Regions from separate parts of the Homo sapiens genome. Here region 2 is linked to region 1. The links come from fine-mapping of genetic effects on gene expression. Tissue or cell type: whole blood. Region 1 holds a variant in brackets; the other region holds the start of a gene. All regions are shown on one strand. Distances are from middle to middle.

The links. PIP is the estimated chance that this variant, and not a neighbour inherited with it, causes the effect.
Region 2: PLEKHA5 starts here. The variant in region 1 is fine-mapped to the expression of PLEKHA5 in whole blood (TOPMed, PIP above 0.99). The same link has a PIP of 0.9 or more in blood mononuclear cells.

The regions. Positions count from the first base shown.
Region 1 is chr12:19,050,924-19,062,860 of GRCh38, reverse strand. The region is part of intron 1 of LOC107984527 (a long non-coding RNA gene); the gene reads right to left. Among named protein-coding and RNA genes, the nearest start is that of PLEKHA5, 73 kb to the left of the region's middle. The variant T/C (reference allele first, on the strand shown) is at 6,528.
Region 2 is chr12:19,123,461-19,135,397 of GRCh38, reverse strand. PLEKHA5 (pleckstrin homology domain containing A5) reads right to left here and starts at 5,665. Exons shown (of 32, transcript NM_001256470.2): 1 at 5,510-5,665; 2 at 5,268-5,347; 3 at 2,948-3,005. The coding sequence starts at 5,598.

The DNA.
Region 1 (11,937 bases):
GGAGGGGAAGTGCTAGATCTACAGTGTGCTTGTATTCAATCCTTAGACACTGCCAGACTCTGCTAAGCAGATTGCATTAATTTTATATGCTAAACAATAGTGAATGCCTCAATGATTGGTATTTTCAGTCTTAAGTTTTGGCCACACTGATGGGTTTGTAGTGGTACTTTATCTACTTTTAGTTTACATTTTCCCTGAGTTTACATTAACCAATGAGTTCAGTACCTTTCACATGTTCATACATTCATTGACTATTTGGATATCATCTTTTGTGAGTTGGCTGTTCAAATCTCTTGCACATTTTTCCATTTGGTTGTTCACCTTTATTATTATTGGTTTGTAGAATTGTTTATGTATATTAAAAATATTGTCTCCTACTCATGGCTTACTTTTTACTCTCTTATTGATGTCTCAATAAACTTGATATAGTAACTTTAATTAGTCTTTCTTTTTATGATTTTGCTTTTGGTGCCCTGTTTATGAAGTCTTTTCCAATTCTATCTAGGTCATGAAGAAATTCTACTAACATCTTCTAGAAGCTTCAGAATTTTGTTTTTTCACACTTAAATTTGCAATCTCTCTGGCATTGTTTTCTCTGAATGGCATGTGATTAAGTTTAGAGTCCATTTTTTTTTTCACCTATGGGGATTTCCAATGTTGTCAGCAACATTTATTGTAAAGTTATGCTTTCCCTGCTATTCTGAAGTGCCATGTTAATTGTAATTCAGGATCTAGATATGAACAGGTCTATTTCTGGAATTTTGTTTTCATTTCATTGTTTTATTGTCTGTCCTTTAATCAATACCATATTGTGTTAATTATTTTTACATGTAGGGTGTATCAATGTCCTGTAGAGTAAGTCCTCGCATCATGTTCTTCTTCGAGAGTATCCTCACTATTCTGAGTCTATTGCATTTCCATATATTTCCATTTTGGTACCGGACTGGTCCAATTGCATTTTGATGCATTTTCATTTTAGGACCAGCTTTTCCAATTCCATGAAAACAACAACAAGACAAATACACAAACACATAAATATAAACACACACATAATATATGTAAACACACACATATAAAACAAATTTAAAAATGGGTTAAGATTTTAGCTGGGATTGTACTGACTCTATACAGCAGTTTGAAGAAAATTGACATTACATTATTGAGTCTTCAAACTCATGAACATGGTGTGTCTCTCCTTTTGTTTTAGTCTTTAAGGTCTTTCAATGTTTCATAGTTTTCTGTATAGAGGTCTTATATGTCTTTTGTTAGATTTAATATTTAATAATTTAACATTTTTGGTTTATAATAAATAGTATCATTTAAAAATTTTATTTTCTGTTTATTGTTGCCATAAAGTAATATATTTAGGAGCCTCTGGAGCTTCTAGAACATAACAGGAGAATATTCTTCCTGACCTGAAGTAGGAAAAGGAATGCATTTATTTACTTGTGTAGCAATTTTGATGAACTGTCTTGTTAATGCTAATTTTCTGTCATTCTTTTGACACTTCTATGAACACATGCACATATCATCTGGGTTTTATTTCTTATTTCTTTCTTTCCAGTCTTTCCCCCCATTTCCCATTCCTCATTTTCTTTCCCTTTTGTTTTTCTGTATTAGCTGGGCTCCCTTTCTGTACTGGTGGCTACCTTCTTCCAATGTTGAAAGGAAGTGGTAACGACAGACATACCCATCTTTTTCCAGATCTCAGTAGAAAGCTTACACCGTTTCACCGCTAAGAATAATGCTTGCTGTATCTTTCCTTTTCGTACTCTTTAACAAAATAAGAAGATTACCTTGTATTCCTAGTTTGATGAGAATTTTTATAATGAATAGATTTTGAATTTTATCACAGTATTTTCTTTATTTATTTAAATGATCATATGAATTTTCTCTTTTCCACTAATGTGATAAATTGAACTGACTGATTTTTAAATCTTTGACCAATCTTGCACTCTTGGAATGAACTCAGATTTTTATATTTTGCTAAATTTGATGTTAGAATTTTGTTTAGGATTTTTTCAATTTGTGCTCTGAGTGATACTGACTCAGACTTTTTCTTTCTTGAAGCATTTTTGTCATGGTTTGATATCAACATTAACATAATAACTTCAAAAATAAAGAGAAATAGTGCCTCATTTGCTGTTCTCTAGAAAAGTCTGTTTAAACGTTTGGTAGCATTTACCAGCAAACCATCTGGGCCTGTCATTTTCTCTGTGGGAAGGAATTAAATTGAGAATCCAGTATCTTTAACAGGCCATTTAGACTTTTTATTCTTGTCTTAGTTTTGGTAGCTTGTGCTTTGTCCATGTCATCTAAATTTTATTTTATTTATTTATTTTTGAGACAGAGTCTCACTCTGTTGCCCAGGCTGGAGTGCAGTGGCATGATCTCAGCTCATGGAAACCTCTGTCCCCTGGGTTCAAGCGATTCTTGTGCCTCAGCCTCCCAACTAACTGGGATTACAGGTGTGCACCACCATGCCCAGCTAATTTTTGTATTTTTAGTAGAGACGGGGTTTTGCCAGGTTGCCCAGGCTGGTTTCAAACTCCTGGCCTCAAGTGATCTGCCCGCTTTGGCCTTCCAAAGTGCTGGATTTCGGGCTTTAGCCACTGTGCCCAGCCATGTCATCTAAATTTTAAAATTTATTGACATGAAATTTTAAAAATAATATATTCTTTTTTCTTTTGTAGAGATGAGTCTCACTATGCTGCCCAGGCTGGTCTTGAACTCTTGTGTTGAAGTAATCCTCCTGCCTTGGCCTCCCAAAGTGCTGGGATTACAGGCATGAGCCACTGTGTCCGGCCTGTAATATCTTGTTATGATCATTTTAATGTCTGTATGATCTAAAGCAGGAGTGGGCAAACTATAGTTCTCAGGTCAACCTGGCCCATGGCCTGTTTTTGTTTGGGCCAGTGAGCTAAGAACGGTTTTTATATTTTGAAAGAGTTATTAAAAACAGAACAACAACAACCAAAACACAAGGATATGTGACAGAACCCAGTTTCTGCTCTTAGCTTTAATATTTCCTTAGTTTACATTTGTGGTTTAATTTCCTTTTCTTTTTTTAGCTTCTTGAGAACCCAGTTTTAATAAATACTATATTCTGTGTGTAGCAGAAAAGAACAAGTTTGCTATGCTGTTATTCAAATCTTCTACATCCTTACTGATTTTTTGTCTTTTTATTCTATTGGTTAGTAAGAGTTGTGTTAAAAATCTGCCTCTTTTATTGTGGATTCACAAATTTCTTTTTATAGTCCTGAAATGAACTACTCTTTTTGAGGTCATAGCATTAGACACATATAAATTTAGAGTTGTTACAACTTCCTGATGAATAAAATCTTTTATCATTATTAATTGGGATGGAAGGGAAGTACATTTTAAGCAGTAGCAACATTCTAACAAAGATAAAAGAAAATGTAAAACATATTTTGGAAGAGGAAATAATACGATTTAATTATATTGAGAGGTCTACTTTGGGGAATAGAAAAAAGGAGACTATGAAAATAGAGGGAGGGCTTTATTTTGGTTTGCTTCAAGCATCACAGTGAGAAGTTTGTATCTAAGCCAACCATACATTTTTGAATCCAGTTTTTTTTCACCTAAATTCAAGTTTGTCACAATCGTAAGCAATAACTTTGGCTTAAGGCTTTATACATCTTTACATATCTTTACCTAAGATAAGTGATCTTAACCATTTATTGTTAAACATCCAATTTTAGTAATTATTCTACCATCTTATTTCATTTTTCTCAAGAAAGGAAAGTAGATTTTTATAAACAAAAATAATGAATGAGTGCTCGTTTATTATCCTTTCCTGAAAATATTCATGCCAGCTCTCCTTTATTTTCTTCTGAACAATGACCTTTGAAAGAAAATAACTGGTGGAAAAACAAAGTGAAAGTCTTGCCTCAGAATTTGGCTCAGTGTCAGAGTGATGTATGCTCCAGTTTTACCTCAGAGACAGACAGTGGCTGCAGTGCAATGCTGATTTGGTGGGTGGGCTAGGTTAGGGTTCAGGACCCATTCAGCTGAGCCGAAGTTGCAGTGTGACTTGCTCGGCCACGCTGGGCTTGAAGCTGGCTAAAGGCAGGAATGGTGGGAGGTGCAGGAGAGCAGGCTTTAGGGCACACAGATGTTCATCTAATGGCCAGAAACTGCTCTGCCCTTTAGACTAGCCTCAACTTCTGGCTCACCTCACAGCCTCAAATCCACAGCAACCATATCAGCAATGATTTGTCAGAGACTGAACTGTTAATTTCTATTTCTCTGAATAGGACCTTCCATCTTCCCAGCCTTCTATTTGTTGGTACTAAGGATTCAGAAAAAGGCAGGTCCTAGCTGGGATGGGATGCTGATGTCCTTATCTGACAGGAGAGGTATCTATTACATGACTGGCTTTGTTCCCTGCTCAACCACTTACGTGTAGTGAGGCCATAGATAAATTACTTTATCTGTCTCTGCTTTCATTTCTATATCTGTAATCTGAAGATAATAGAGTTATACCTACTCCTTACACACTTTAGTGACATACTTGTGAAGATAAATTGAGGTTGAATTGTAACGTGTCTGCAAAGTCCCAAGAGCTTTGGGAATAAAGGCTATCTATAAATAAAAATGTATTATGAATGCTTGAATTTTAATAAAAGCTTTTATATTTTACCCTCATGGCACTTTAGAAAGTCATAACTGTTGAATATTGAACAGATCTTTTTTTTTTCTCTCTCCACCCTGCCTGAAATAACACTTTCTAAACTAAGTTAGATCCTGGGAGATATCCATAAAGAAGATAAAGTTTGTTTCTGTGCTTCCAGGTTCCCCATTTTGCCCTGTTTTCCTTCTCAGGATGATACACTTACACTACTATTCCAAACGGATTCAGGACTTTCAATGACTTTTTACCCCCATTAAAATACACTCTCAATCAAAAATTAAATAAACTTATCCATTGGGGCAGACTGACAAGCCTAATGTGTTATCTTTCAGTATTTTTAATCTTTTAAACCAGGACATTCTTTAGCCAAAGGATTTAATCTAAAGTGGGAAGTTTGGATTTCAATCTAAGTATGGAATGGAGGCGTTGATGCTGATGGTGACAAGGAAAGAAGGCAAGTAAGTTGGAGCTTTTTTTTTTCCTTTCTTTTTTTTTGAGACGGAGTCTCGCTCTATTGCCCTATTGCACAGGTTGGAGTGCAGTGGTGCCATCTCAGCTCACTGCAGCCTCCGCCTCCCGGGTTCCAGTGATTCTCCTGCCTCAGCCTCCTGGGTAGCTGGGATTACAGGCACGTGCCACCACACCCGGCTAATTTTTGTATTTTTAGTAGAGACAGGGTTTCATCATGTTGGCCAGGCTGGTCTCGAACTCCTGACCTCTCAGATGATCTGCCCACCTCAGCCTCCCAAAGTGCTGGGATTACAGGTGTGAGCCACTGTGCCTGACCGTAAGTTGGAGCTTCTGAAATCTTACCAGATAGGTACAGGCATTAAAAAATAACTCCAATATCAAACACTTTATATATAATCAGCCATAATTAAGAACACTAAGGAAGGCAACCCTCACTGAAGTAGATATTATTTGCTCCATTTTATAGATGAGGGTACGGAGGCTTGAAGAAATTAAATAACTGTGAGATCACACACCTAGAAAGCAGCTGATCTGAGCTCAAACAAGCTTGCTTGATTCCAAAGTAGCTTTCTTGCCATGTAGAGTAACAAAACAAATCATAAATATGTAGAACTATGGCTGGGATTAACTCTGGACTCAACTTCTTTTGTTCCTTTGATGCTAGTCAAGCACACTTTTTTTTTGGTGCTAGCAGTCTCCATGTCTCTGAATGTAATTTTTTTTTTTTTTGGACGGAGTTTCACTCTTGTTTGGCCAGGTTGGAGTGCAATGGTATGATCTTGGCTCACTGCAACCTCCACCTTCCAGATTCAAGCAATTCTCCTGCCTCAGCCTTCCAGGTAGCTGGGATTACAGGCATGCACCACCACGCTCAGCTAATTTTGTATTTTTAGTAGAGATGGGGTTTCATCATGTTGGTCAGGCTGGTCTCGAACTCCTGACCTCAAGTGATCCACCCGCCTCAACCTTCCAAAGTGCTGGGATTACAGGAGTGAGCCACCGCGCCTGGTCCTTGACTGTAATTTATGCCACAAAAATAGACATCCCTGTTCTCTGGAAATAATTATATTGTGGTAAAATGTCAAAATAGATCTTTGGTATATTCCAAATGCTTTTTAGTATATTACTAAATTTAGTAATACATGTGTTTTAATTAAAAATCAGAAAAATGTTGCTAATGCTATAATAATGCATTTATGCAGAACCCAATCTGGAGGCCCTTTCTTTATCAGCAGTTTCTTTGATGTGTGCAGCATTTCCCTTGAATCTCTCTCTCTTGAATAGTGTATTTTCTTAGTTCCCTTGATACTTCTTCAGCCAGTTTCCCTCATATTCTTTTTGCTGCTTCTTCTTTCTCTTTAATGTGTTTGTCTCTCAGAACTCTTGTGTCAGAATTCTGCTA[T/C]TTTTTTTCTATTCCCAGTACTCCTTAAGCATGCATCATTTCTTATAGCCTCAATGACAATCTTTATGTTGGTTTTCATTTCTCTCCAGCATGAATCTTGATTCAGGCAATTCAAGCTTAGATTTCCATTCATTCTTCTTGCTTTTCTGTATACTTATGCTCAACACACACACACACACACACACACACACACACACACACACACACGAGTCACCCATTCAGTCCAAGCTCTGTGTTGCCCATGATATGGTACATTATAACACAGAATTCCTCATCTTTGCATTTTCTCCCTATCATATCAAAAAATTAAAATGGCAGAGGTATATATGAAAAGTAGTTTCCTGATAAAGTTAGTGATACTTACATACTGAAGTTTATCAGTAAAAATTAATAACTAGCATTAACTAAGTGGAGCCATTATCAAGCTATAAGTGTATCATTTGGTTTTCTTATGTTGTCTTCTCCTACCCATGGGTTCTCTCTACTCATTTACAGTTTTTCGTTCACTGTCATTTAATGACTCAGCTGCCTGTCAACAAGAGTATTAATTGGGGCCATTCATGACACGTCCTCTTGTCACATCTGCTCACTCCACTGCCATTACTCTGGTCATTCGATCTTTGATCCAGCACTCTCCCTAATCTAGATAAATTTTAGAATTTTTCAGGCTTCACGCTGTCAAATTTAAAATCTCTGGTATTCTCTATTAATATCCTTCCCCCTAACTCTGTCCTAAAGTGGAGGGACAGTCCTTACATTATTAACTGCCTATTTTTCTTTTAAAATTTGATGGCTTCCATTTTCCCAGGACATACTGAAATTATTTAAAAGGGAAAATTGTTTAAAATATGTTTCATTACAAATTGTGTAGTCTATTTCTCCACATAGCAAAAATCTTACCAATTTTCCCTTCACAAGCATTTTTGTTGCAATAAAAAATAGTTTGCAAATGATCTTTTGTAGTTTCACTTTCATCTCTAGAGTATTCTATCAGTTACCCTAATTGTGATCAACAGAAACTGACTACCGTTAGCTTAAACCAAAGTACATTTATTTAGGACCTTGGTGGTAGGGGAAGGGATGGATATGGTGCTTGCTTACGTGGGGATAACAGGCTAGCAGGCAGCAAGGCAAGGCTTGGGAACAGAGAGGAGCAAAAGGGGATTTAGAAAACCAGGAAGCAGGAAGAACAGAACCATCTCATGGCAAAACTTGTCTGGTTAGCGCACCTCTTCTCTTTTATTGCCACTGAAATGAAATCATCTCTACAATGTTTTCTTCATTCTTGTATTATTCACTCAATATTCACAGTCCCAGAAAAGAGAGAACTGATTGGCTGGAGTTAAGTCACACAACTGACCCTTGGGACTACCAGAAAAAGGATCTGGAACACTTGGTTTCCAAAGACGGGCAATTGCTTTCCTTGCCACGACCACATGCAATGGGGAAGGGGCATTTTCCCAGAACGAAATTGGCGGAAGGTGAATGGATTGGGCAACCAGTAAAGACCAACGTCCATGAAGGAACTAATATTTTTTGGTTGACTTTTTCACCAGTTGAAATATTGTAGGGAAGGAGAGTCTAAAGAGAACTTTATAAATCACAGGAAAGAATAATTTGGTTTTTTTTTTTTTTTTTTTTTGAGACAATGTCTTGGTTTGTTGTTTAGGCTAGAGTTCAGTAGTGCCTTCATGGCTTGCTGCGGCCTCAAACTCCTGGGCTCAAACCATCCTCCCCCTTCAGCCTACCAACCAAGCCCAGCTAATTTTTCTTTTCTTTAAGATTTTTGTACAGATGGTTTTGCTATGTTGCCCCGGCTGGGTTTAAACTCCTGGCCTCAAGCAATTCCTCAGATCCTGGGATTACAGGTGTCAGCCACTGCCTCCGGCTTTGAGGAAATAATCAAGGAAATAATTTTAAATAACAGTATGTCTGCCCAACAAGAATTTACAATAGTATACACAAACAAGGAATTCCGAAGTGAGCATAAGAGATAGTCTCTTTGTTTTTTTCATTGTCATTTATTTTACATATAGGGTGGTGCTGAGATGTAGAAAAGGAGGAGAGAGGAGAGGAAATAAATTTGAATGGGAGAAAAAGACAAGAGAGGCAACATGGGGAACAGATATGGGTGTGTCAGCATTTTACATGTGTCATCTGCAGGTCTAATTCTAGTTTTGTGGAAACTTAGAATTGCTTTTCAAACCTTTGAGAGCATCTGCTTTACCTTTTCTCTGTCCAACTTCCATCTTTCTCTCTGGCAGCTAGGGTTTTCTGCATATTGGTTCAAGCATTCAAGCTAGTGAAAAAGCCACATATTTTTACTCTCCACTCTTAGGCAATTTTTCTCTCCATCAGAGCCAGTTTGTGCACGCTGTTCATGGGCTCCAGTGGTAAGAAAGATTCATTTTTCATAAGGGAACATCAAAATTAAGAGAAGTGTAAAACCATTTAGCATCCATTGTTCTTTTTTATAATTAGCAAGAATGGGCTGAGGGCAAGATAAAGCATATATATTTCTGACATCTTTAGATTCTTTTTTTTTTGGACACAGATGACAAGGCAGATTTGGCTGTTTCTTGTCTAATTTGACAAGCTGAATATTGTCAGGCAGATGTCTTCATTAAGTCTGTGTAGGAAGAGGGAAGAGAATCAAAGGGAAGAAGTAGTGAGCTTTCCTTCTGGTACTCTGGATAGGGGTCTGATATCTTGCAGGGTGATCTGTGAGTACAAGGGTAGTGTAAAGTGTTTTGTGTAAAATATTTTTTTAGGATTAAAAAGACCTGTGGCAATCATCTATTGGGTCCTAACACCTCATTTTGTAGTCTTGGAATATGCAGTGTTATGACCCACTTCAGGAAGCAGTGACAATTGCAGTATTTAGGTCAGGAAGCATAGCAGAGGGGTATATGGTGAGGTTACTCAAGGTTGGGGAAACCTGAAAATGAGTTGGTGTTACATCTTCACCAGTAGTGAGGTTTGATCTAAAAGATATCTACCAGTTAAGTCATTTCTGTAAATACTATCTGTTTAATTTCAACCTTGTTCATTCCATGCAGAGGAGATAACTATCTGACGGTGAGCTCTTTTGCCATTTAGTATTCCTCTTTTCCTTTCCTCTATCTCTACTGTCAGTTGGAAGCGCAGCAAAATCTTCCCTCTGTCATTTCTTACATTTGCTTCTTTTATGTCCCTAAAAGCTTTCAAATCCCCCTTCTCAGGATTTATTCCTATTTTTGGTTCTTTGGTTGTTTTCAACTCAACTCACATCCCTCACATAGATCATATTATAACGATTCTTTAAGAAGCAAAGCATGTTAGCAACTCCTGAGTCAGTTTTCTTTCTGTAAGCAACTAGGTTACCTCAGCCAGACTGGGTGAGAAAATGGCATCACAGCAAGAAGCTTATATTGTGCTAGTTAAGTACCAGCAATGACCAGTAGCATGCAATCAGAGACTGGGGATGAAACAACAGTGCAGCTATTTGGGACAAATTTCTGCTCTATTAATTCAGTTATACATTGTGATAACTAATATGCATCCATGACCATTGACAGCAGGTGATCAAATTATGCCTCTCAATCATCATGATAATCTAAGACATTATAAAAGCAGCGGGTATAAAATGCCATGTGCTATCTGAGTAACCAGAGAATCAGGGTTAAGAAAATAGTGCTGCCAGGAAGAGCCATTGTTCTTTTCTTTCCTCCTTTCTTCTATGTTTTAAGTGTTGGTTCCTTCCCAAACTACTAGAAAAATGCCTACTGTACATTCTGAGCACTGTGCGTCTGACACTTCTTTCCCTCCCCAGGTAGCACGAATCTTGAGAAATGAAGTAGAGAAAATGGCATAACACTTTGGAATAGCACAAGGATATGGATCAGGGAGCATCGTCGCATTTAGAAATGAATGGACTGATAGGAGGAGGGATGAGGGAGGGAAGTAAGTAATGGACAATGACCACTCATGTTAAAACACAGCACATACAAATATGAGACAAAATAAATGTAAAGGGTTTTCGCTTAAAATTACTTGTAATATGTCAGAAAACATTTATCAATTTGTCAAACAAAAGATTAAAGGTAATGCACTTATTAATGCATTTAATCAAAAAGAATTTATCAAATGTTCATATGCCAGGTACTGCTTTAGTTGCTGGGAGATACAGCAGTGGACAAAGCAAAGTTTTTACTCTTATGGTGCCTATATTGCAGTAATAGTAAGAGAAAACAATAAAGAAACAAGTAAGAGCCGGACGCGGTGGCTCATGCCTGTAATCCCAGCACTTTGGGAAGCACAGGTGGGCGGATCACCTAAGGTTGGGAGTTCAAGACCAGCCTGACCAACATGGAGAAACCCTGTCTCTACTAAAAATACAAAATTAGCCGGGAGTGGTGCTGCATGCCTGTAATCCCAGCTACTTGGGAGGCTGAGGCAGGAGAATTGCTTGAACCTGGGAGGCGGGAGGCGGAGGTTGCAGTGAGCTGAGATTGTGCCATTGCACTCCAGCCTGGGCAACGAGAGTGAAACCCTGTCTCAAAAAAAAAAAAAAAAAGAAACAAGTAAATAGATAGCATGTTAGTTGGTGCGGAATACTACAGAGAAATAAATCAAGAAGGGGCAAAAGGAGCAATGGTAGTGGTGAAAAGTTAGCTATTTTACATAGAATTCTTCAAAAGAACCCCTAATGAGAAGATGGCATCTGAGCAGAGATCTGAAGGAAGTGACAGAGCCATCTATGTGGATATGTGGGCAAAGAGAGTGCAGGCAGAGGAAAGAGCAAGTGCAAAATCCGTAGGGAAAGATTGTGTTTGGTGTATTTGAGGAAAAGCAGTGAGATGCTGTGGCTGAGCATGAGGAATGTAAAGGAGAGTGATAGGGGATGATGTCGGTAGATAGGTGGGTGGGCGAAGCAAGGCAGATCAGATCATGTAAGTACTCATGTAGAACTTGATGCTTTAGAAAATCTTCTGGCACATATACACCATGGAATACTATGCAGCTATAAGAACGATGAGTTCATGTGCTTTCCAGGGACATGGATGAAGCTGGAAACCATCATTCTCAGCAAACTAACACAAGAACAGAAAAACAAACAGCGCATGTTCTCACTCATAAGTGGGAGTTGAACAATGAGATCACATGGACACAGGGAGGGGAACATCACACGTGGGGGCCTGTTGGGGGGTGGGGGGCTAGGGGAGGGATAGCATTAGAAGAAATATCTAATGTAGATGATAGGCTGATGGGTGCAGCAAACCACCATGGCACGTGTATACCTATGTAACAAACCTGCACGTTCTGCACATGTACCTCAGAACTTAAAGTATAATAATAAAAAAAAAGAAAAAAAAGAAAATAAATCTTCTGGCTGCTATTTTGAGATTACACTGTTGGGGCTGGGGACAGT
Region 2 (11,937 bases), 73 kb before region 1:
AGAGGTTGCCTTTTCCAGGTAACCTAATTTAAAGACGTGAAGACTGAGCTCCAAAGTCATTAAGGTCAAGACCACATTTCAGTTCCTATGACTTCCCCACTACAATCCTCTCCTCTTACCACCTACAGAGATGCAAGTGTCAATACCAAAATATAATTAAGAGATAAATTCTTTCTGGTAACCTGCCATTTTTAACACCAACCAACATTTGTCCAGGAGAGGAATAATTTAAGAGTTATATATATTTCACTTCACAATGGAAGCAGAAACAACTGAAATTCTTTAGGTCTCCCTTCTTGCAGTGAGAACTTTCCAGAACACAGGATTAGGAATAGTCAAAGGGCTGACATGTCTTTTATTGGCATTCCTATCTTTCCACTTCCCATGTGAACAAAATCCACCCCGATAACCCTGTAACCTCCTTTACATACAATTTGATCAATAACCACCTTTCTTCATCTGAGAAAGAAATGACAATGAAAAACTATAGCCACCAACACGAATCACTTTCCTACTTCAGACTCCTATCTTTTCCTCCACTCTGAATATTCTAAATATAGTTTATGTTCCTGGGGTTTCTCATCCTGCTGTCTTTGCAAACTGTAAGTTCCAAAGGCATGTTTCTGCTGTTTTATTATGTGTGTGACAATGGGAGTAGTAACTCTGACTACTTCATGAATGAATAATGTATGTGAAGGTACTCTAAATTGTAAAGTTTAAGATAAAAGTAGTGCCCCTATCCTATTAGAATGATAAATAACAATACAAACAAGTAAAAAGTTTCTAGGAAATTACAGTGCACATTAGGGATTTAACTAACCTTAAAAGAAATTAGTCTTCTGACATTACCCAGAAGATAAAGCAGTAGCACCTAACATTCAGTACATCATATATTTATCAATGGTTAGTTTTTTTAAAAGTTTAATGAGTGATATGCAACACTATGCTCAATTTTAGGAGAAATTACTTCCATAATATTATAAGTTATTTATTGCTACTTTTGGACACAATTACTGGCTATGAATACCAAAATGATTAAAACCTACAAGTTTAAAAATGTCTTTAAAGTAAAATTATTATAGCTTTCTTAATATTGTCTTAATTTTCCAGAGAAACCTACTTAGGCATTAGACATGGCACTCAAATAAAATTCTAATTTGTTTAAGTAAACATAAAAGAAAACCTAATCAAAATGGCTCGTAAAACAAAAGAAACTCACTCAATGTCTTCCTAACAGCTTAGTTCTAAATTAAAACATACATACTCAGCCCACACAGAATAAGATTTTGTACTATCAAATAAACATTCATCCAAGAATGCACGCAAAGAAATTAAAATGTTATTGAAAATTGAAATGTTACCTCTGTTTTTATAAGATGAGCTAGGCTTAATGTACAGTAGTCAAAATTACATTGAATAAATGACCTGAAATGAAAAAACTGTTTTTCTTCACATATACCATACTACTAGCTTGACAAGAAAAGAAGTATCCCTTTTCGTGGCAATATCAACTCACTTTAATTTAGGATGGAAATAACCAATAGAAAAACATTTGATGACTGCATTTCACTCAAGTATTTTTTTAGGCCATCTAATAATGTATAGTATAATCTCCAAAGAAAAGATTTCACCCAAAAATATTCACAGAAAGACCATACCATGAAACTATTCCATTCCTGTATCTTCTGCTTTCTCTATTTCTACATCCAAAAGCAAGCATTCCTAATACTTATAAAAAAGCCCTTGACGTTTTATCTAAGTATCTTTCTAAAAGATTAAAGAACCATACAGGTAATTATAATTTACTGGAAGTATAACATGATCTTAAAAATGTCACAGTAAAAATAACTTTCTAGGCTCAATGAAATAAAGGTAACTTTAGCTAGGTATCTGTTATTGTTTATAAACTACTGAAGTCTTAACCCAGTTTGGCATTTCAGCATTCTCTTTCATGTCTCAGTTTATTAAAATTAAAGAACAAATAAGGTTAAACAATAAAAACAAACTCTTAGGTAAATAGTTTCTAATATAAAAATAAAAAGACAAAACCACCCATATTTTTCGTTGGGGGATTAAAATTTTTCCTACATGATGTTGACCTCCAGCTTTGTATTTGTCTCCAAGTAGTACTAAGTTATTAAGTTTGAACATAAATTAGTTTAATATTCTAAAGAACTGGTTTTAAGATTGGGACTGACTGGTCATCTTTTCTCTCAAGCTCTACTAAAAGCCTTTTTTAAACAAACATATCAATAAAACATCTTGACTTAGACATATTTAAATAAACTGAGGCAAAAATACAAACAATGCTCCAATATATGCTCATGAAATATTCAGTAACTATTTCTATTTTTACTCCCTGACCGTCATTGTTTATCAAATTGTGCCTAGCTTTACATCACTTTTGCTACCTATAAACAGCCCTGGTCAAAATATACATGAACAAGGTTCACTAAAAAAAAAAAAAAAAAAAAGATGTTCACGTAACTCAGATTTTTTTTTGTTTGTTATCTCTCAGCACAGATAATCAAAGATCAAAACTTTAAGTACCACATAGCTAATGACCAATAATCCTCTATTACCCAGGAATATACACAGAAGCACCAAAAAAAAAAAAAAAAAAAGGTAATTGTGGTCATATTCTGATGAAGCTGGACGATTCCAAAAGAAAAAAACGAAGATACAAAATTATTTTTAAAAGTGGCCATAAATGATCTAATTTCCAAATCAATGAATCGATGAATATTCCAGGCAAATAACATTAGAAAAGTAAGAGTGCCATTTTCTTCTCTCAAAATTCTGACACTATACAAAATAAAGAATACAGTCACCATTATATGATAAACTTCAGAAAATCATGATCAAGACTGGACATACAACTATTCAGCTGAGGAGTAATCACAGCATTCTAATTACGAAGGAAAAAAATGAAAGTCAAAAAACTCACTTTATATAGTATCTTGCACCTTCAAAAGTATATGCTTCTTCCCAGCCAGTAGGCAAATCTAAAACAATACATATATTACAATTAGTATTACTTCAATGATAGCAAAATAAGTCTCAATCCATTTTAATTATCCATTTTCATTTATTAGCTGTTTTAATTAAGTAGATTACTAACAAAAAAAGTGTTGAGCTGGCAATACAACAGATATCATTTTTTGAAAAACAGCAATTCAAATTTAGAGCCACCAGAAAAGTAACCATAATATTAGAGATTATCTGACCTGAGCACACACTGTAATATATTAGGGTGGAGAGGAACTATGTTCTGGCACCCAAGAAAGCAAAGGGAAGCCTTCTCATCCCAGGTGGAACACTCATGAATGACTAGCAAAAAAAAAAGCTGGGTATAACAGGCAACGCCTGCCTCTTCTTGGGTATATTGTGTCTATTTAAGACCGTATTTTTCAGCTACACAAATGAATCCATCTAGGAAGTGTCACCAAAAAGAAGGCAGAACTTCCTAACTACTTAATTAATGGAAAAGAAATGACACCGAATACTTCCGTGTGTGTTTCTAAAAATTTGACTAAGAGACGTGAAGTTTCAAGTAGTAAAGTTGGGGATGATTCAGGTGAACAATGGTCATTATGTGCTACATATTATTATTAATGACAAGTTGTTTGGATTTCATCAAAATGCCTCTTGGAAGTAAAAACAACCGATGTGTGTACAAAACCAGAGTCCAAGCAAAGTAAAACCAAACCAGAAAAAAAAAAAAGTGAAATCACATAAAAGAATAAAATTTTTCTGTGGCGTGAATGTTACCAAATCTGTGGGGTTAACTAGGACACTTATTTATATCACTCATAATTCCATAGGATAATTAGTCTAAATAATTTAAATGTCATATCGTCTTTCATGAAATAAATCTATCATTATCCATAAAAGCAAAGAGGCCATCAAAGTTGGAATATGCGTGTAAAACACCAGAAAGGTATATTGAAGCAAAAGCCTGCACCGGGGAATTGAGAAACATGATAGTGTATTAGTCAGAAATGCCTTAAAAATGTAAGCTCATCATGCTTGCTACACCAGCCTTTCCTTTCTTCCTCCACCTTTTTGCAAATTTGGAGACATTAGTCACTTCAGTGAACTCCAGCATTTCACAGAGAGGCAGGTTTGTTCAATATCCTGGCAACTTTAACAGATTCACGGAATGTCAGAGTCCGAGAGAATGTACCCCAGAGGCCAGCTCTGAGGACTGCTGAAACTGGCCTCGCCTTCGACCCAAACTGCTCTCAAGCCTTTCCAATCACCAGGACTAGAGGCAGGCCAGTAAGAGAACACATGTTACATTTCAAAGACAAACAAGTCACGAATGTAAACAAAGAATGATAAAAGAAACCCAGACCAGTACAGAAACTACGAGGAGCCTTTTCCAGCTCCACTCACACTTAGCATTCAAACAAGCTCCCAAAGCCACCCGAGAGAGCCGCTTCCCCACGGACTCCCTCCAAACAGGGCCCGGGTGCCCCCATACGGGACACCCCCTCGCACGCCCACCGCCTCCTGGCAGTCTGTGCAACCTCCGTGCGGCTGGCGGGGACTTTAGATCCGGATCGCCAGCAACTGAGGCTGCGAACGCCTCCTCCGGCTCCGGCTGCTCCTCCCGTGGCAGGAGGGAACGCGCCAAGCGTTTCCCGAGCCGTTCCCTGTCACAGAGAGGATCGCAGCACCCCCGAACTCCTCTCCTCCTCCTCCTCCTCCTTCATCAGCCACCTACCCACAAGTCCCACCTAGGAGGAGGAAGCTGCACGGCAGGAGGCAGCGCTCCTGGGAGGAGGGGGAGGATGTGGTTACGTTATCCCGGCGGGCGATCGGGGTCCGGGGCTGCAGGGAGGGGAGTGGGTAAGGACTGCCTGAAGATTGCTGGGGGGCAAGACGGCAGCTGGGGGTCACCGGGGAGTGAGTAGCGGCCGCGGAGGAAAAACTCAGGACTCCAGGTTTCAGGGAGGGGAGCGTCGCCACTCTAGGGTCGCGAGGGTCGTCTAGGCTGGGATGGGGGGAGAAGGCGCAGGAAGAGGGCGCCGTCTCCAAGTGCTGATGAAAGGCTGAGGAGAAAGAGGCGCCCCGAGACTGGAGAGAACTCCCGGCGGCGGAGTCCCCGTGGCCCCTCTACCTGCGGCCGCTCCCGCCCGGCCTCCGCCCCGCCTCGCCGCCTCCCGGGGCCCGCGGCGCGGGGCAGGTTGCGGGGAGCCGGGCGGCCCGGGCTCTGCCGCCTCCTCCAGGCGGAGCCCAACTCCGTTTGGGCCCGGCGTTACCTGTGCTCTGCCGCCGGTGTCCGGTGACCACCGCCTCGCCGGTGACGGGGTGCAGCCAGGTGGTGCTCTTGGCCTCCTCGCTGCAGGGGTGAGAGAAGGGGCAGACACGGAGCGTGAGAGGGGACGCGGGGGCGAGCCGAGGGGCTGCAGGAGCACAGACCCGGGCTCTCCCCCGTGTCGCCAGCCGCCCGCCTCCTGCCCTCCCGCCCCCGCGGGCCCCCGTGCCGTCCCCGGCTCTTTACTTGATGAAGAAGACTCGGCCGCCCCTGGTGATCCCGTAAGTCCAGGACCGGGGCAGGGAGATCCACTCCAGGTTCAGATCCGCCGCCATGTCTGATCCCTAGCCGCCGCCGCCGCCTTCTCCTGCTGCCGCCGCGGCTGCCGAGGGAGGAGGGAACGAGCGAGCGAAGGGAGCGCGGAGCGAGCGCGCCTCCCCGGCCCGGCGCGCCCCCGCGCGCGCCCTACCCCCTCGGGCGGTGCCCGCCCCGCCGCCCCGGCAGGGTCCGGCCCCCGTCGCCGCCCCTCCGCATCCCGGCGGCCGCCGGCCGGCCGCCCCGCCGCGCGCTCGGGGGATGGGCAAGCGGCGCCGCGCCCCAGACCCCTCCCTCGGGCCCCTGCGGCGCGCCCGCCCCCTCCGCCGCGCGAAGGTTCCGGGATCGATTAAAAAAAAAAAAAAAAAAAAAAAAAAACGCGTCCTGCCCCCAGGGCTTTGCCCGAAGGCTTCCCATCCCAGGGCGCGATCAAAGGGAGCCTAATAATGCCCAAGCCCCTGATTTCTCTCTTTCAAACAACAAAAACACAGCGTCTGAGCTTTGTTTTATAAGAGCTGTTGGAGAGCCAACAGATTTTTCCAATATATTTATCGTTTTAAAATGGAAAGCTGTTTTTATTAAAGCACACGAAAGGCCTTTCCTGTTTGTTTGTTGTGTGCCAGATATCAAAGGTTGGACGTGATACGTGGCCCCATGAAATATGAGTGGATTTAGACTTGACAAAACAAGTTTTTTCTCTTCCTAGGCCCCTTAGGTCATATCTTATAAAATAAAAACTCGTCTTTTTCTGGTACTTGTTTTTAAAGATTCACTTAACATCAGTGTGGATTTTTACTTGCCCTGTCTCCAATAGATTACAATAATAGCTTATTTTATGGAGTCCTTGTGACGGTGTACATTTTTAAATCTTCACAACAACTATATATATATGTGTGTATATATATATATGTGTGTGTGTGTGTGTATATATACACACACACACACAATCTATAAAAAATCCCCATTTTACAGATAGGAAAAATGAAGTTTAAAAACACAGTAGTTTGCCCAGTCATAGTAATAACTGCCAAAGCCTGGATTCAAACTGGCTGTAGGATTTCAAAAGTATATTTGTATAACCTCCTTGCTGTACAAGCCCACTTTGTTTTACTGCGATTCACTTTATTGCTGTTTGCAGATCTTTCACATCTTACAAATTGAAGGTTTGTGGCAACTCTGCATTAAGCAAGTCCTAGCACCGTTTTTCAACAGCATTTGCTCACTACATGTCTCTGTGGCACATTTTGGTAATTCTTGCAATCTTTCAAACTTTTTCATTATTGTACCTGTTATAGTGATCTGTAATCAGTGATCTTTGATGTTACTGTTGAAATTGTTTTGAGGGCACCATGAACTGAGCCCATGTAAGACAGGGACTTAATAAATGTGTGTGTTCTGACTGCTCCACCAACCAGCTGTTCCTCTGTCTCTCTGCTTCATCTTGGGCCTCCATATTCCCTGAAATGAAACACTAATAATTGTCTAATAATAATGGCCTAATATTGAAATTAGGCCAACCAGTAACCCTACAATGCCCTTTAAGTGACCAAGTGAAAGGAAGAGTTGCATGTCCCTTACTTTAAATGAAAAGCTAGAAACGATTAAGCTCAGATGTATCAACAGCCAAGAGAGGCCAAAAGCTCGGCCTTGTGTCAAATAATTAGACAAGTTGGGAATGCAAAGGAAATGTTCTTGAAGGAAATTGAAAATGCTACTCTGGTGAAAACATGAATTATAAGAAAACAAAACAGCCTCATTGCAGATAGGGAGAAAATTTTAGTGGTCTGGGGAGAAGATCAACCTAGCTACAACATTCCCTTTAGCCAAAGCCTAATCCAGAGCAAGGCTCTAACTCTCTTCAATCTTATGAAGGTTGAGAGAGCTGAGGAAGCTGCAGAAGAAAAGGTTGAAGCTATCAGGGATTTAAGGAAAAACACCATCTCCGTAACATAATAGTGCAAGATGAAGCAGCAAATGATGTAGAAGCTGCAGCAAGTTATCCAGAAAATCTAGTCAAGATCATTGAAGGTGGATACACTAAACATATTTTCAATGTAGACAAAACAGCCTACTATTGAAAGAAGATGCCATCTAGGACTTTCACTGCTAGAGAGGAAAAGTCAATGCCTGGCTTCAAAGCTTCAAAGGGCAGGCTGACTTTTTTGTTAGGAGATAATGCAGCTGGTGATTTTAGGTTGAAGCCAATTCTCATTGACCATTCCAAAAATTCTAAGACCCTTAAAAATTATGCTAAATATACTCTTCCTGTGCTCTATAAATGGAACAACAAAGCCTAGATGACAGCACATCTGTCATGGCTGACTGAACATTTTAAGTCTGCTGTTGAGACCTACTGCTCAAAAAAAAAAAAAAAAAAAGAAAAGAAAAAGTGATTCCTTTCAAAATATTTCTGTTCATTGACAGTGTACCTGTTTACCCAAGAGTTCTCCTGGAGACATACAAGAGATTAGTGTTGTTTTCATGTTGGCTAACCCAACATGCATTCCACAGTTCATGGATCAAGGAGTCATTGTGACTTTCAAGTCTTATTATGTAGAAAGTACATTTCATAAGGCTATAGCTGCCAGAGATAGGGGGTCCTTGGATGGATCTGGAAAAAGTAAATTGAAAAAATTCATAATTCTAGATGCCATCAAGGACATTTGTGACTTAAGGAAGGAAGCCAAAAGATCAACATTATCAAGAGTTTGGAAGAAGTTGATTCCAACCCTCATGGATGAGTTTGAGGGGTTCAAGACTTCAGTGGAGGCAGTAACTAGAAATATGGAAATAGCAAGAGAACTAGAATTAGAGATAGAGCCTGAAGATGGGGCTGAAATGCCACAATCTCATGGTAAAATTTGAAGGGATGAGGAGTTGCTTCTTATGGATGAGCAAAGAAAGTGATTTCTTGAGAGGGAATCTATTCCTGGTGAAGATACTGTAAATATTGTTGAAATGACAACAAATAGTTTAGAATATAATATAAACTTAGTTGATAAAGTAGTGGCAGGGTTTGAAAGGATAGATTCCAATTTTGAAAGAAATTATACTGTGTGTAAAATGCTGTCAAACAGTATCACATGCTACAGAGAAATCCTTCATGGAAGGAAGGGTCAATCGATGCAGCAAACTTCTCTATTGTCTTTAAGAAACTGCAACAACTGCTCTTACCTGCATCAACACTAGCCTGACTGGTCAGCAGCCTTCAACAACATTGAGGCAAGATCCACCAGCGAAAAGATTAAGACTTGCTGGAGACTCAGATGATCCATTAGCATTTTTTAACCATTAAAGTTTTTTTTTTGTTGTTGTTGTTGTTTTTGAGATGGAGTCTCACTTGGTTGCCCAGGCTGGAGTGCAGTGGCACAATTTCAGCTCACTGCAACCTCCATCTCCCAGGCTCAAGCAATTTTCCTGTCTCAGCCTGCCTAGTAGCTGGGACTACAGGTGCGCATCACCATGCCCAGCTAATTTTTGTATTTTTATTAGAGACAGGGTTTCACCATGTTGGCCAGACTGATCTGGAACTCCTGACCTCAGGTGATCCACCTGCCTTGGCCTCTCAAAGTGCTAGGATTACAGGCGTGAGCCACCGCGCCTGGCTAAAGTATTTTTTAAATTAAGGCATGTACGTTTTTTAGCCATAATGCTATTGCACACTTAATGGATTACAGTATAATAAATATAACTAATATATGCACTAGGAACCAAAAAAATGGTGTGACTCACTTTATTGCTATGTTCACTTTATTGTGCTGGTCTAGAAATGAACCAGCAGTGTCTCCTAGGTATGCCTGTAGTTAAAAAATAAGTCTTGTTGGCTGGGCGCGGTGGCTCACGCCTGTAATCCCAGCACTTTGGGAGGCCGAGGCGGGCGGATCACGAGGTCAGGAGATTGAGACCATACTGGCTAACATGGTGAAACCCCGTCTCCACTAAAAATACAAAAAATTCTCCGGGCATGGTGGCGGGCGCCTGTAGCCCCAGCTACTCCGGAAGCTGAAGCAGGAGAATGGCATGAACCCGGGAGGCGGAGCTTGCAGTGAGAGGAGATCGCACCACTGCACTCCAGCCTGGGCGACAGAGCTAGACTCCGTCTCAAAAAAAAAAAAAAAGAAAAAAGAAAAGAGAGTCTTGTCTCCCTTCCTCCTGCTTTTGTTCGTTGAACAAGGGCAGATTTCACTGCGACTGGGATCTTCTCCCTTAATGCCATCTAAGAGTAAACTGCCTCTTCTCATTGTCTCTGGTCTTTTACCACACTTGGAATCGCTTATGCATCTTTGCAGCAAGATGACTCATTCCAACAGGATGCACAGTACAGTAATAATAGTACTACTTAGTATTCTTATAGCACCTAATTTTGTGACCAGTTTTGGGTGTTTCTGGAGCATGATCTCATTCATCTTCTCAGTAACTTAAAATGGTAAATAATGTTTTTCAACAGTTAAGGAAACTAAGGCACAGAAAGGGTAAATGACCTCGGACAAAGCCATATCCAGCAAGTCAGTTGGGGCCTGGATGAGAATGTAGTTTCACTGAACTTTTTCTCCCATACTCTGATTCCCCAAGGCCATTCTGTCTTCAGTGAAAAGGAGTCTGCAATTACTGCTCTAATTTTCCTGTCCATCTGCATACACAAGGGGGAAAAAATAACATCATTTTAATGTTTTCTCTTTTGGTTCCTTTGCATTCTCCTCTTTCATTTCACTACTTATTACTTCTTGACATCTTATCTCCTGCCCAGTCTCTGGAAAAAAAAAAAATGACTCCTTTTTTTTAATCAATGAATAACTAGCAGGAAATGTTCCACATTAGCGTCAGTAGTCACTGGATATAATATAGCAAGAAAATCAAGAGCTACTGACTTTGTATTATGTTGTCATTGCAAATAAAAAATCTAAAGTTAGTCTTTTAATATGATTATAACTTTGCAATTCTAGTACCAGTTAGTCCAGCTATAGCATTTGACTTTTTGACTGTGTACTACTGGGAAGCCTGTAAGTTGACCATATGCAGTACTGGTATTCCTTTTAGCTCTAAATCTTTTGATACTACAAGATTTATTATTGCAAGGCACATTTCAAAAATCAATAGAAATTCACTTCATAAAAACGTGTATCTTAAGAAATCACATTCACAGTGCTTAAATGGCAGTCTAGAATCTTAAGTACAATTCTATAATGTGCACCCAAATTTAGGAAAAACAGTAAATAAAAAACTTAGTGACACATATACAAAAAGAGGCATGCTTCTGATTTGGGGAAATAATTGCCCTTAGGACTTCCAAGAGCCAGTAAAAGCAGCCTCAATATTAGAAAGATGGGCGCTGTGAATAATTTCCATCCTTAATGAATAAAATGGTATTTTTCTAGAATGCCCTCTCTCTGTAACTATGTCTTTATCTAGTTCTGCTTTATCTTGTAGTTGTGTGTATATGTGAGTCTCCTTCACTGTAGTGAGGTAAGAATCATGCCCTTCCCATCACAGAATCTCTGCAACCTTGAGTCAGCACTAGAATGGTTACTGAATTTAATTTTCTTCCCAATGCTTCTACCTCCCAACAGAGTTATTTCCCAATAACATATCCCCTTTTTTATCACCCCATACCTCTTCAATAACTGATTCAGATATAAACTCATATCTAACCTCTGCTTTTTATTGTTTTTTTTTTTCATATTTCCATCCTATGAGACTATTCAATTTCTTATATCATGATCTGCCTTTTGGAGCAGCATTATCCGATGACTATCACAGCACAGCCAAAAAAAGAGGAGGTTTAACAAGTACTGAACACTAAAAATAAACGTCACTCGCTCCATATATGGAGGAAAATCCTTGTTCTAAAGAGCTTATAGTTCAAACAAAGCAGAAAAACACACATAATAACAAGAAAAACACAAAGTTAAATTTCCTAAAATATGTGAAAGGAAAAAGAACAAGGTGACATCTGAGAAAGCAGCTAATCAATTTGTTTCCTTTTTAAAAAGGAATGGGAAAAATTTATGAGTTCTAGAAAATGGAGAAAGAGGCTCATGAGAGAGAAGGTAATTCCTTTTACTATTAAGAAGCATCTATCATTCGTATATATATGAATGTTTATTAAAACCTACCAACAAACTTTTGTGACTTTTATGTGGTTGTCTTTCCAAATATATTTGTGATACCTCATATATAACATTATTGCATGATATACCTCATATATCACATGTTGCATTATTAATTCACAAAATAAGGATTTTTTTTCTTTTTTTTGAGATGAGGTCTCACTCTGTTGCCCAGGCTGGAGTGCAGTGGCATGATCTCTGCTCATTGCAACCTCCGCTTCCCAGGCCCAAGTGATGCTCCCACCTAAGCTT